2 separate regions of the Homo sapiens genome follow, and region 2 is linked to region 1. Evidence: fine-mapped expression QTL. A gene starts in region 1. The other region holds a variant in brackets. All regions are shown on one strand. Distances are from middle to middle.

Region 1 (5,350 bases):
ACATGGAAGGCACTTGAAAATCTGCCTAGCTCAGAGAAAGTACTTTATAACCGTTAGCTAACTTATTATCTCCACTTATTCCTCCTCTTAACCTCTAACTACAGATTGTGTGCTTGGCAATTTTCTTTTCTCCCCCTCCCACTTTTTCTCTAGATCATGTCCTCTATTCACAAGGTTTCAATGAGCCCATCTGAAAGAATACAAATCTCTCCCATAAATCCAAACCTGTCTCCTGACCCCTAGACCACATTCAGCTTCTCCAAAGCTGTCTTTTTCCAATGACCTTACACTTTATCAACAGCATCATTATTTGCTCTCACCATTTTTCACGTCACTCTCTTACTCATCAGCACTATATGCAATCTATTCTCAAATTTGTCATCCCTACCTCCTCAATGTCTTTTCTATTTCCTAGCTCAGGCCTTCCTCATCACTCATATAATCTACCCCTCCAAACTGGTTTTACACTCCTCCAAAACTCAACTCCACATTGCTGTCAGACAAACCTTACAAACTCATAGCTCTGATTGAGTTACTAAGTCAAAATCCTTCAATGGATCTACCCTACCTTCCCTAAAAAGCCCAAACTTTTGAGCTAGGCATTCGAGAACCAACACAAAATAGATGGCACCGATCCCATCCCCTGGCATTCTCTTTATCCACAACCTGGCCAAGCAGGAAAATTCTTTAGGTCTTCTCTCACTGATGCCTACTGAACATCCCTCCCATATTTTCATACTTCAGCCTGTTGATATTTTACCAACCTTAAAAATCCACTTAAGGCCGGACACTTTGGGAGGCTGAGGTGAGTGGATTGCTTGGGGCCAGGAGTTTGAGACCAGCCTGGCCAACACAGTGAAACCCCATCTCTGCTAAACATACAAAAATTAGCCAGGCATGGCAGTGCGCACCTGTAGTACCAGCTACTCAGGAGGCTGAGGCACGAGAATCACTCGAACCCAGGAGACAGAGGTTGCAGTGAGCCAAGACTGTGCCACTGCACTCCAGCCTAGGCGACGGCGCGAGGCTGTCTTAAAAAAAAAAAAAAAAGTCCACTTAAAACTCCAACTCCTCCACAGGTTTGGGGGGTTTGTTTTTCCTGGTTGACTTCTTCCTTTACCCCAAAGACATTCACTCTCTGTTCCAAACATTCTTAGCAACTGGTAATGACTCTTTCAGGCCTGCCTACATTCTGCAATATCCTACAGCTATTTTACATAATCACCTTAAACTCCCTGCTTAATGAAAAGCTCTTTAAGGGCAAAGACCATTTTTTATGTATCTTTGTAGCCCTTTTGACAATTAACATATCTTCTGACTTTTTTAAAAGAGAAACCTAACCATTAGGAACAGCAAGTAGTGCAGAAGTCCTTGAAAACCTCAGCTACCCCTAGAATACCATGCTAAATGTCACCTAATGGAAGTCCAGGAGAAAGGACCTACAGTTTTTAAATAATCTGGATAGGAGGTAAGGAGGCAATGACTCAAAGTGAGGGCGACAAAAGACAACTCCCTCCGTATTTCACACCTCAGTGTTTTACACACCGTCCCTAGCAAAGGACCTTAAACAGAAAGTTAGGATAATTGGATTCCAGTGCCAACTATGCCATTTACTTGCTTAGTGCCTAGCCATTACCCTCTGAGCCTTTATTCATCTGTTCAATGAGAAGCTTCTACCAGAAGATCTCCAAGTCCCCTCCTTAGACTTCTCTTTTCTACAAAAAGATTAACCTGTTCAGGCACCCAATTCCCTGACAAGTCTTCAAAGCTTCATCCCAAGCCTCACTTCTTCAAATTCCATCTCCAACAACTCTGGTCCTGGCTGCTCTGGGTACTTCAACACCTGCGATCCTCATAATCAAAGCTAAGTCACAAACTGTCTGTCCCCATCGCTCCATAATTGATATGAAAGTGGCCTCGGGAGGGGCAATGCAACCTACTCGGGCAGAAGGTGGGCTTCCTCCTCCCGCTGCTGCTCCACATCAGGTGTGCCCAGTGATCCATAGCCGAACAGTGTCCCTAAGATTGCAGCCTGACTCCCCTCCCGCCTGGGTTCCCTCCTTTCCAGTACCCAACGCTTCTCTAAAACGCAGCCACAGCCCTTCTCACCCAGCAACTCGAGGTTCATCCCTGCGGACTGTGGCCGCCCGGTCTCAGCTCCGGCAACAACACCTTCTCCCCGGCCGGCTTCAGCAACTTGCGTCTAAGTGGTGGACGCCGCGAAGAGACTGGCGCAAGCTCCGAAGACTTTCGGCCTTAGAAGGCCCCGCGGCTTCCGCTTTCTTCCCCCGCCTTCCTTGTTCGTTTCAGGTGGGCTGCCCAAATATATGCCTGACCAAAATCAAGCATACACTCTCTCGGAAACAATTAATTATGATCTTTGCTGAGGTACAACAATGTTATCGTCACTAGGGACTTTAAATAGCGCGACAATTTAAGATTATTTGCTCCGGGAACATGTAGGTGAGGTAGAAATTCCAGGCATACAGTTAACCTACTAGTTCTTGCCCTGTTGTGTGTTCAGCGGCGTTGTCCGGGCGGGCTACCTCAGACTCCGCAGGAAAGGTTCCGGACAAGTCCTGCTAATGCAAGAAACCAGGGAAGGTCGTCCCCTAGTGCTCGGGTGTGTAGCGCCGCTGACCTCACCAAGGCGCGTACTTACCCTGTATGTAGGTGGCGTTGCAGGGTGTTTCGGTCTCGTGAAAATTATTTCTCATTTGTAAAGATATGCTATTGATCCTACAGAAAGGTACGACAACATATGTTAGGCCTGTCTGTGTTAAGATAATAAAAACCTTATTATCTAAGGTTTTACCCTTTACCAAACAGTGTTGACAGGGACGCTGTGAAAAAGACTGTGAAAAAGAATTGGAATGAGGGGTGGACTGAGTTTCCCGGAGCTCAGTCATACAGAACTCCAATGAAATACCCAAAGCAATTAGAGAAGTCCAGTTACTGGTATCTAGCGAAAGAGCAAATTTTATATGAACAAATTCCTACTATAAATGCTGTGGCTCATCAGAAAAAGGAAACAACGTCAAAGGCTCGCTGCAGAAAATAGTACTCGGGCTAGGTCTCCGACAATGGAAAAATACACATACACAAGTTTATTAATCGCAGTATTGTCTGCAATTGCAAACTTTTGGAAACAATAATGAAACTTTTGAACTAGGGAGCCCAGCATTTTCATGTTGCCCAGGGCCCTGCAAATTATGTAGCTAGTCCAGTCTGCCTCTACTTGACAAATTTGCAGAAAAAGCAGCCTCATTCACACAGTGCACCCTGTCCCTGGGCCCCAGTTGATTGCTCTTTCAGTAAGCCCCTGACCTAAGCTCAACCCAATTAAATTCCTTTCCCAAGAATTTGGAATGGGAATTAAGTGGCCCCCACAGTCTGACACATCGATTGAAGAGAGTAAATGTGAATTAAGGAGCTATTTAAAGCGCCTAATAATAGATGGACACCATGGTAGTTGGCTGCAGGTTGCAGAATGAAGCAGAAGTCCAGAAACTAGTCAAAGATAATACTTGGTGTATCCAATTAGTTCCCAAGAACATATTACATTAATGTCTTCTATTTCCATTATCCTTGGACCTTTATAAAGTATGTCTTTTGCAGCCGGGTGCGGTGGCTCACGCCTGTAATCCCAGCACTTTGGGAGGCCGAGGCGGGCTGATCACCTGAGGTCGGGAGTTCGAGACCAGCCTGATCAATATGGAGAAACACTGTCTCTACTAAAAATACAAAATTAGTTGGGCGTGGTGGCTCATGCCTGTTATCCCAGCTACTCGGGAGGCTGAGGCAGGAGAATCGCTTGAACCCGGGAGGCAGAGGTTTCAGTGAGCCAAGATCGCACCATTGCACTCCAGCCTGGACAACAGAGTGAGACTCTGTCTCAAAAAAAAAAAAATCCACAGTTTTTCTACTCTCCAAAGACAAAGGAAAACTTTGCATAAAGGCAAAAGCAACAAGGAAAAATATCGTGTGAAAACCACAGCCTAGTTTCCTCTAAATTCTCTGACTCTACTCTCAAATCCAAAGTAATCATATATATATGTATTTAGAGATATGGTCTCACTCTGTTGCCCAGGCTGGAATGCAATGACGAAACCATAGCTCACTACTGTAACCTTAAATTCCTGGGCACAAGTAATCCTCCTGCCTCAGCCTCCCAAATGCAGGGATTACAGATTACAGCTGTGAGCTACCACGCCTGATTCCAATGTAATAATTTTTACAGATTGGATGCTAATATAGCTAATGAAGTTAAAATTAAAGCTGTTAAAAATAAAAATAGTGAGGCCAGGTGCAGTGGCTCACACCTGTAATCCCAGCACTTTGGGAGGCAGAGGCCAGGCGTATCACGAGGTCAGGAGTTCGAGACCAGCCTGGCCAACATGGTGACACCCCGTCTATACCAAAAATACAAAAAATAGCCAGGTGTGGTGGCGCATGTCTGTAATCCCAGCTACTAGGGAGGCTGAGGCAGGAGAATCGCTTGAACCCAGGAGGTGGAGTTTGCAGTGAGCCAAGATCATGCCATTGCACTCCAGCCTGGGCAACAGCAAGACTTCATCTCAAAATAAATAAATAAATAAAATGAAAATAAAAATAGTGTTAGAAAACCCCTGAGGAATTTTCTTTTCTTTTCTTTTTTTTTTTTTTGAGAGGGAGTCTTGCTCTTGTCGCCTGGGCTGGAGTGCAGTGGCGCAATCTCAACTCAGCACCCGGCCCACTGAGGGATTTTCAGTACACCTTTTTCCTCACACCTCTTTTTCCCTTTCTACCCCTCCAATCCTATTTGGACTTTCTTTTTTTTTCTTTTCTTTCTTTCTTTTCTTTTTTTTTTTTTTTTTTGAGACAGAGTCTCACTCTGTCGTCCAGGCTGGAGTGCAGTGGCATGATCACAGCTCACTGCAGCTCAACCTCCAGGCTCAAGTGATTTTCCCACCTCAGTCCCCCCAAGTAGCAGGGACTATAGGCAGGCACCAACATGCCCAGCTAATTGTTGTAGTTTTTGTAGACAGGGATTCACCATGTTGCCCAGGCTGGACTCGAACTCCTGGGCTCAAGCTGTCTGCCCACATCGGCCCCGCAAAGTGCTGCCATTACAGGTGGTGAGTCACCATGCCTGGCCTTTTTCTTTTAAAAAAAAAAGAAAGTTTAAATAACCTGTAAAAATTAGAGAGCAAGCCATGGCACTTCAAAAAAAGGGAAGTGATCTATTTGACAACGCCAGATCTCATCAGTAATCAGTAAAATGCAAATTAAGTCACAATTAGATATTTACAACGACAAAGTTGACAAACTAAAAGAAGAGCACCCAAAATTCTTGTAAGAGAATTCTCTC
Region 2 (5,375 bases), 69 kb after region 1:
AGCCTATTGTTCCTAGGCTACAAACTTGTACAGCATGTTACTGTACTGAATACTATAGACAGCTGTAACACAGTGGTAAGTATTTGTGTATCTAAACATATCTAAACATAGAAAACGTATGCTAAAAATACTGTACCTTTGTTGACCAAGATGCCATCATGCAGCACATAATATAGCACTATGGAGCCCTTTTAAATTATCTACCATATGCGGTTTTAGCTTATGTTCTTCATTGTGACATATTTTACTACTAAATGTATGAGCTATAAATGTATAAAATGTATAAATGTATAAAATGAAATGTTATTCAAGTTTGCATAAGCTCTAGAATCTTTTCCAGTTCATCTCTCTGATGGCTGGTGACAACGTCCCAGCTGCCAAGTCATCTGTTTCCTTAAAACACTGGGTGCTCAATTAACATCAATACCTCCTAATCAAATCACATTCCTTCTGTTTATGGGAGACAAGACCCTAAATAGGACAAAGGGAAAGAACTGCCTATTAGGATAAAATCCAGGCAAATCTAGAAAGAGATGTGATTTATTTCAAAAACATTCTCCTTGATGGACATCCCAATTACCCTGATTTGACCATTACCACATTGTTACCCACATATCGAAATACCACATGTATCCTATAAATATGTACAATTACTATGTGTCAATTTAAAAAATCTGTTTTTCACCACCCTTACGTTTTGTACAAAAAAAATAAAAAATAAAAATCTAAAACAAAAAAAAACAAAAAAAACTTCTCCTTTCAAGGCAACTACTACTAATCTAAATGGATAACTTCCCCAAACACGTTCAAATAATGTTCAAGACAGAACAAGCTTCCTAAAGAATGAGAATCTGTGTTTGAGAAAAATAATCCGAAATTAGTTCACTGAAACTCTCAGCCTGAACTATATCACTTCCTTATTCCTTCAGTATCAGTGTCTGCCTATCTCTAAGATTCAGGCAATTCCTGCATTTGTTCAGAAAAGCACAGACACAGTTCTTAGGCTGCAAAAGGGCCAATCCTTGAGCCAAACACATCCATCATAACTGAAATTTTGGGTGGCACTAACTGAAACAGTATTTGCTTTAGTCACTTAACCATAAGCTGCATTAAATTATTTGTAGGCCATTTATTTTGTTTGTTTCCAGAATTGGAAGCATAAGAGGCCTGAATCAATTAAGAGGTGGTTCTACTTCAGAGTGAACCTACCTAGCTACGATTTCAAATCCCCAAGCATCCTTCTCTTCCACAAACAGTAACACCAAAAGGGTTAAAGAGGTCTGTGTTCACGCAGATCCCTCTATGCATTTCATTAGGGCCCTTCTTTTCATGTCTGTCTATAAGGATATCAGCCTGGCCCGCACATATACATCAGCAACACCAGACACTGAAACAAGCAAATCTACTCTCCTTGGAAAGAGATGAGTGCCTTTCAAAAACCAACAGAGTTAACTAAGTATATAATTCTGTGCAAGGGTATTTACTAAATACAAGAGTATAACACCAGACCACTAGTCTACTCTTTTGATCTACAACCTAAAAGCAAGAGGACACAGCAAATTGCTTGTGTGGCCACTTAACAAGTAGCAACAGGCCAGTCCTGAGTTCCTTCATACCTTATTCTCAACTGCAGAACACCTACCATGCTTTATTCTAATTACCTGTTTATAATCATCTAAAGCAGGAAGAACCATCCTATTTCATCCTCAACACCCAACACAATGCCTGACACTTACCAAGGGCTTAATGTCATAGATTTGTTTGTTTTGTCTGAGAATCCATTTAGTGGGGACAGCTACCTATAGAAAGCTGTAAGCAAACCCACTGAGTACTTTGAAAAGTCCAGTATCATGATGAATAGTTTAAGAGCAACCATCACTCCTAAAAACCTCCTTCATGTGGATAAAAGAATAGGACCCTTCAGCCAGGTGCAGTGGCTCACACCTGTAATCCCAGCAGTCTGAGAGGTGGAGGTGGGCAGATCACCTGAGGTCAGGAGTCCGAAACCAGCCTGGCCAACATGGCGAAACCCTGATTCTATTAAAAATACAAAAAATCAGCTGGGCGTGGTGGTAATCCCAGCTACTCGGGAGACTGAGGCAGGAGAATCGCTTTAACCCGGGAAGCGGAGGTTGCAGTGAGCCAAGATCACGCCATTGCACTCCAGCCTGGGCAACAGAGCGAGACTCCATCT[C/CA]AAAAAAAAAAAAAAAAAAAAAACCCAAGAGTAGGACCCTTCCATTCATCTTGTGGAATTTAACTACCATAGTCTCAGCTCGAGCAGTGAGAAGTCCAGCTAGACTGTCTTCACCTCACCTACACTTCCTAGCTTTCTTCTATTCCCTGTCCTCCCCAGATTTTCACATAAGTGTCTACGCATGAATGCATACTGACAACCTTTAAATTCCTATAATAAAAATGGTTTCATCACAAAAAGACCAACAAAACTAAATAACCTTTGTTACTGCTACTACCAGGAGAGTGGATAATAGAGAAGAAAACCGACTAAATCACTTTTCAGGACGAGAGGGAGAGAGCCTCTGCACCTCTGAAACAAAGTGTCAACTACAGGACAGCCAATGAAACAGGCTGCATCAGCCAAAACCAGAGCAGACACACCCCATTATTCATCTGACCCAAATGAACACTTCCCCCCTCCATCTTTCCTACAAAAAGTCACCACAAATAAACTTGCTACTGTCAAAACGACCAAAGACCAGCGCAGTAGGAAAGGGTGCTGAAGTTGATCCCAGTACACTGTTAGAAGTCCATGGCAAACATCACCGTCTTTGTTTTCCAACATGTCACTATCCAAGCTCTTTGCTTCTCCCACTAAATCTTTAGCTTTTTCATCCATTTGACATCTCTACCAGATTTGAACAAGGGCATGGAGAGAAATGAAGTTGAAAGCAGATGGTTTTACTCCTGGATTCTTGCACACTGCTCAGTGATGTGGTGGAATGCAATATGGAAGTGGGAACAGCACGAGAATGAAGGCAGGCTTTGCCACTCTGACTAGCTCTGTGACCTTGGCAATCCACTCGATCTTTCTGAGCCTTGAAATGCTCGTCGGTAAATGGAGGGGGGTGGAGTTGGATTAGATAATCTTTAACATGCTTTCCAGTTCTAAAATGCCAGGTTTTAACTGCTGAAAGACCAATGATGTGAGGGGGATGGGTGGTTGGTGTGGTGGTTTTTATTTTATTTTAAATTATATGTGAATTTAATTACGCAAGTGCCCCTTGGACCACTATAACTGCAGAACAAAAAGTAGACTGAACTAGCCAGGGGCTCTGAGGACCTACAGTGCAGTCTTAGCAGTTCTCTAAAGAAGAGATTAAAAGCTGTAGACTGACAGTAGGAGGGAGGAAGAAAACCTGTTTCAGAGCTGGAGCAGCTGCCTCACTGACAGTTAAAGGACTTCAAGTTAATCGAGTTTTCTTTTGTAATTAATACAACAGCATCTGCATATGGGCTGCCAGAAGGTAACAGCATGGCTTCTCAGCTGGCTCACATTAACCCTGCCAACTCTGGCTGGAGGAAAAATCATATCAAATTGTCTTAAGTGCAAACCAAGGCTTCTGTTGTTGTTGTTGTTCTTGGTGGTTGTTCTTAAATACAGATTTTGATTTTTGTTTACTTCTAAACAAAAGTTTCAAGCTAGATGGAAGAGAAGAACAACTAAAGCAGCAACCTATTTTGGTTTTTGTTTTACATAACATTTATTGAGCCCTTTCTATGTATTGATCACTTTATTTGCTTCATTTCATTTAATGCTCACAATTCTACAAGACAAGGACTATTATTAACTCCATTTAAAAATGAAGAAATGGACCAGGCATGGTGGCTCACGCCTATAATCCCAGGACTTTGGGAGGCCGACATGGATGGATGGATGGAGCTCAGAAGTGCGAGACCAGCCTGGGCAACAAAGGGAGCAACCCCCGCCGTGCCTTTGTTTCTACTAAAAATTTTAAAAAATCAGCTAGGCATGGTGATGTACTACTCAGGAGGCTGAGGTGTGAAGACTCCTTGACCCTGGGGAGGTCGAGGCTGCAGTGATCTGTGATCACGCTACTGTGAGACTCTCCTGGGTGAGTCACCTGCCTCACAAAATAATAATAATAAAGATGAGGAAATGGATGCTCAAAAAACCAAACCAGGCTGGGCGTAGTGGTTCATGCCTGTAATCTCAGCACTTTGGGAGGCCAAGGCAGGTGGATCACCTGAGGTCAGGAGTTCGAGACCAGCCTAGCCAATATGGTGAAACCCCATCTCTACTAGAAATATAAAAACTAGCCAAGCATGGTGGCCGACGCCTGTAATCCCAGCTATTCGGGAGGCTGAGGCAGGAGAATTGCTTGAACCCGGGAGGCAGAGGTTGTAGTGAGCCGAGATAACGCCATTGCACTCCAGTCTGAGTGACAAGAGCGAAACTCCATTTCAAAAAGAAAAAACAAGAAACAGCTCAGGTTTCTCCATTTCTCTCAGCAGTGAACTGCAGAGCTCTGGGGGCCAGTAGACAATGACCCCTACGCCACATTGTTTTCCAGTCTGGGGTCAAATGCAATTTAGTAACTGTAGGACCTCAATGTAAAGCAGACTGATACAATCCCTATGAAAGTTGCCCCAAACCATGAGGAATAAAGCATATGGAGAAAACCGCAGCATTACCACTGGCTGGTACACACTTTCAAAAAATGTTATTCTACCTGAGATCTCTAAAGTCTCTTTGCTAAAAGAAACAGTAGGCTCTTTTCAGAGAAATTCTTAGTGCTCTGCTCAACAGTCAGTGTGTATTACTGTTTGGGTGACTACTCTGAAAAGAGAAGATGGGAGGGAGGAAATACTCGTGACCTGTTTCTGTTGCTAGTGACTCTTTAAGATACATACTTTATTTAAATTGTTTTTGGGGTAATGTCAATCGATTTGTAGCAACACATTCTCCTTCTTGCCTATTTTCCATCCCATCAGGCTCAGAAAACAATAGCCCAAAGTATGGTGCTTTGGCATGCTGAGCACTTTGAACTAAAGGAGATTGGAAGGCTTCAGAAGCAAGGTTGCTCTCTGACCTTCTCCTAGCCTCCTGTCTGCCTCCCCTTTTTCTCCCCTTAAGCTACTCACAGAAACCAGAATTCCTCTTCCTCAAGACCATAGAAACTAGAAACCCTGGCCGGGCACAGTGGCTCATGCCTGTAATCCCAACACTTTGGGAGGCCCAGGTGGGTGGATCACTTGAGGTCAGGAGTTCGAGACCAGCCTGGCCAACATGGTAAAACCCCACCTCTACTAAAAATACAAAAATTAGCCAGGCGTGGTAGCATGTGCCTATAGTCCCAACTAGTTAGGAGGCTAAGGCAGGAGAATCGCTTGAACCT

Alleles and levels. Alleles are on the strand shown, and positions count from the first base shown. SD is a standard deviation of normalised expression in the study named.
In carriers of allele C in region 2, the expression in naive CD8 T cells of the gene that starts at base 2,233 in region 1 tends to be higher than with CA alone (moderate effect, 0.61 SD a copy in Schmiedel 2018).

The links. PIP is the estimated chance that this variant, and not a neighbour inherited with it, causes the effect.
Region 2: its variant is the best candidate, but not a certain one, in a credible set for the expression of RBBP5 in naive CD8 T cells (Schmiedel 2018, PIP 0.60).

What each region holds. Positions count from the first base shown.
Region 1 is chr1:205,119,746-205,125,095 of GRCh38, forward strand. It overlaps RBBP5 (RB binding protein 5, histone lysine methyltransferase complex subunit), which reads right to left and starts at 2,233. Exons shown (of 14, transcript NM_005057.4): 1 at 2,110-2,233. The coding sequence starts at 2,128. RefSeq lists enhancers at 293-851, 2,015-2,194, 2,335-2,554 and a silencer at 2,916-3,210.
Region 2 is chr1:205,188,421-205,193,795 of GRCh38, forward strand. The region is part of intron 1 of DSTYK (dual serine/threonine and tyrosine protein kinase); the gene reads right to left. Among named protein-coding and RNA genes, the nearest start is that of DSTYK, 21 kb to the right of the region's middle. RefSeq lists an enhancer at 3,139-3,683. The variant C/CA (reference allele first, on the strand shown) is at 2,195.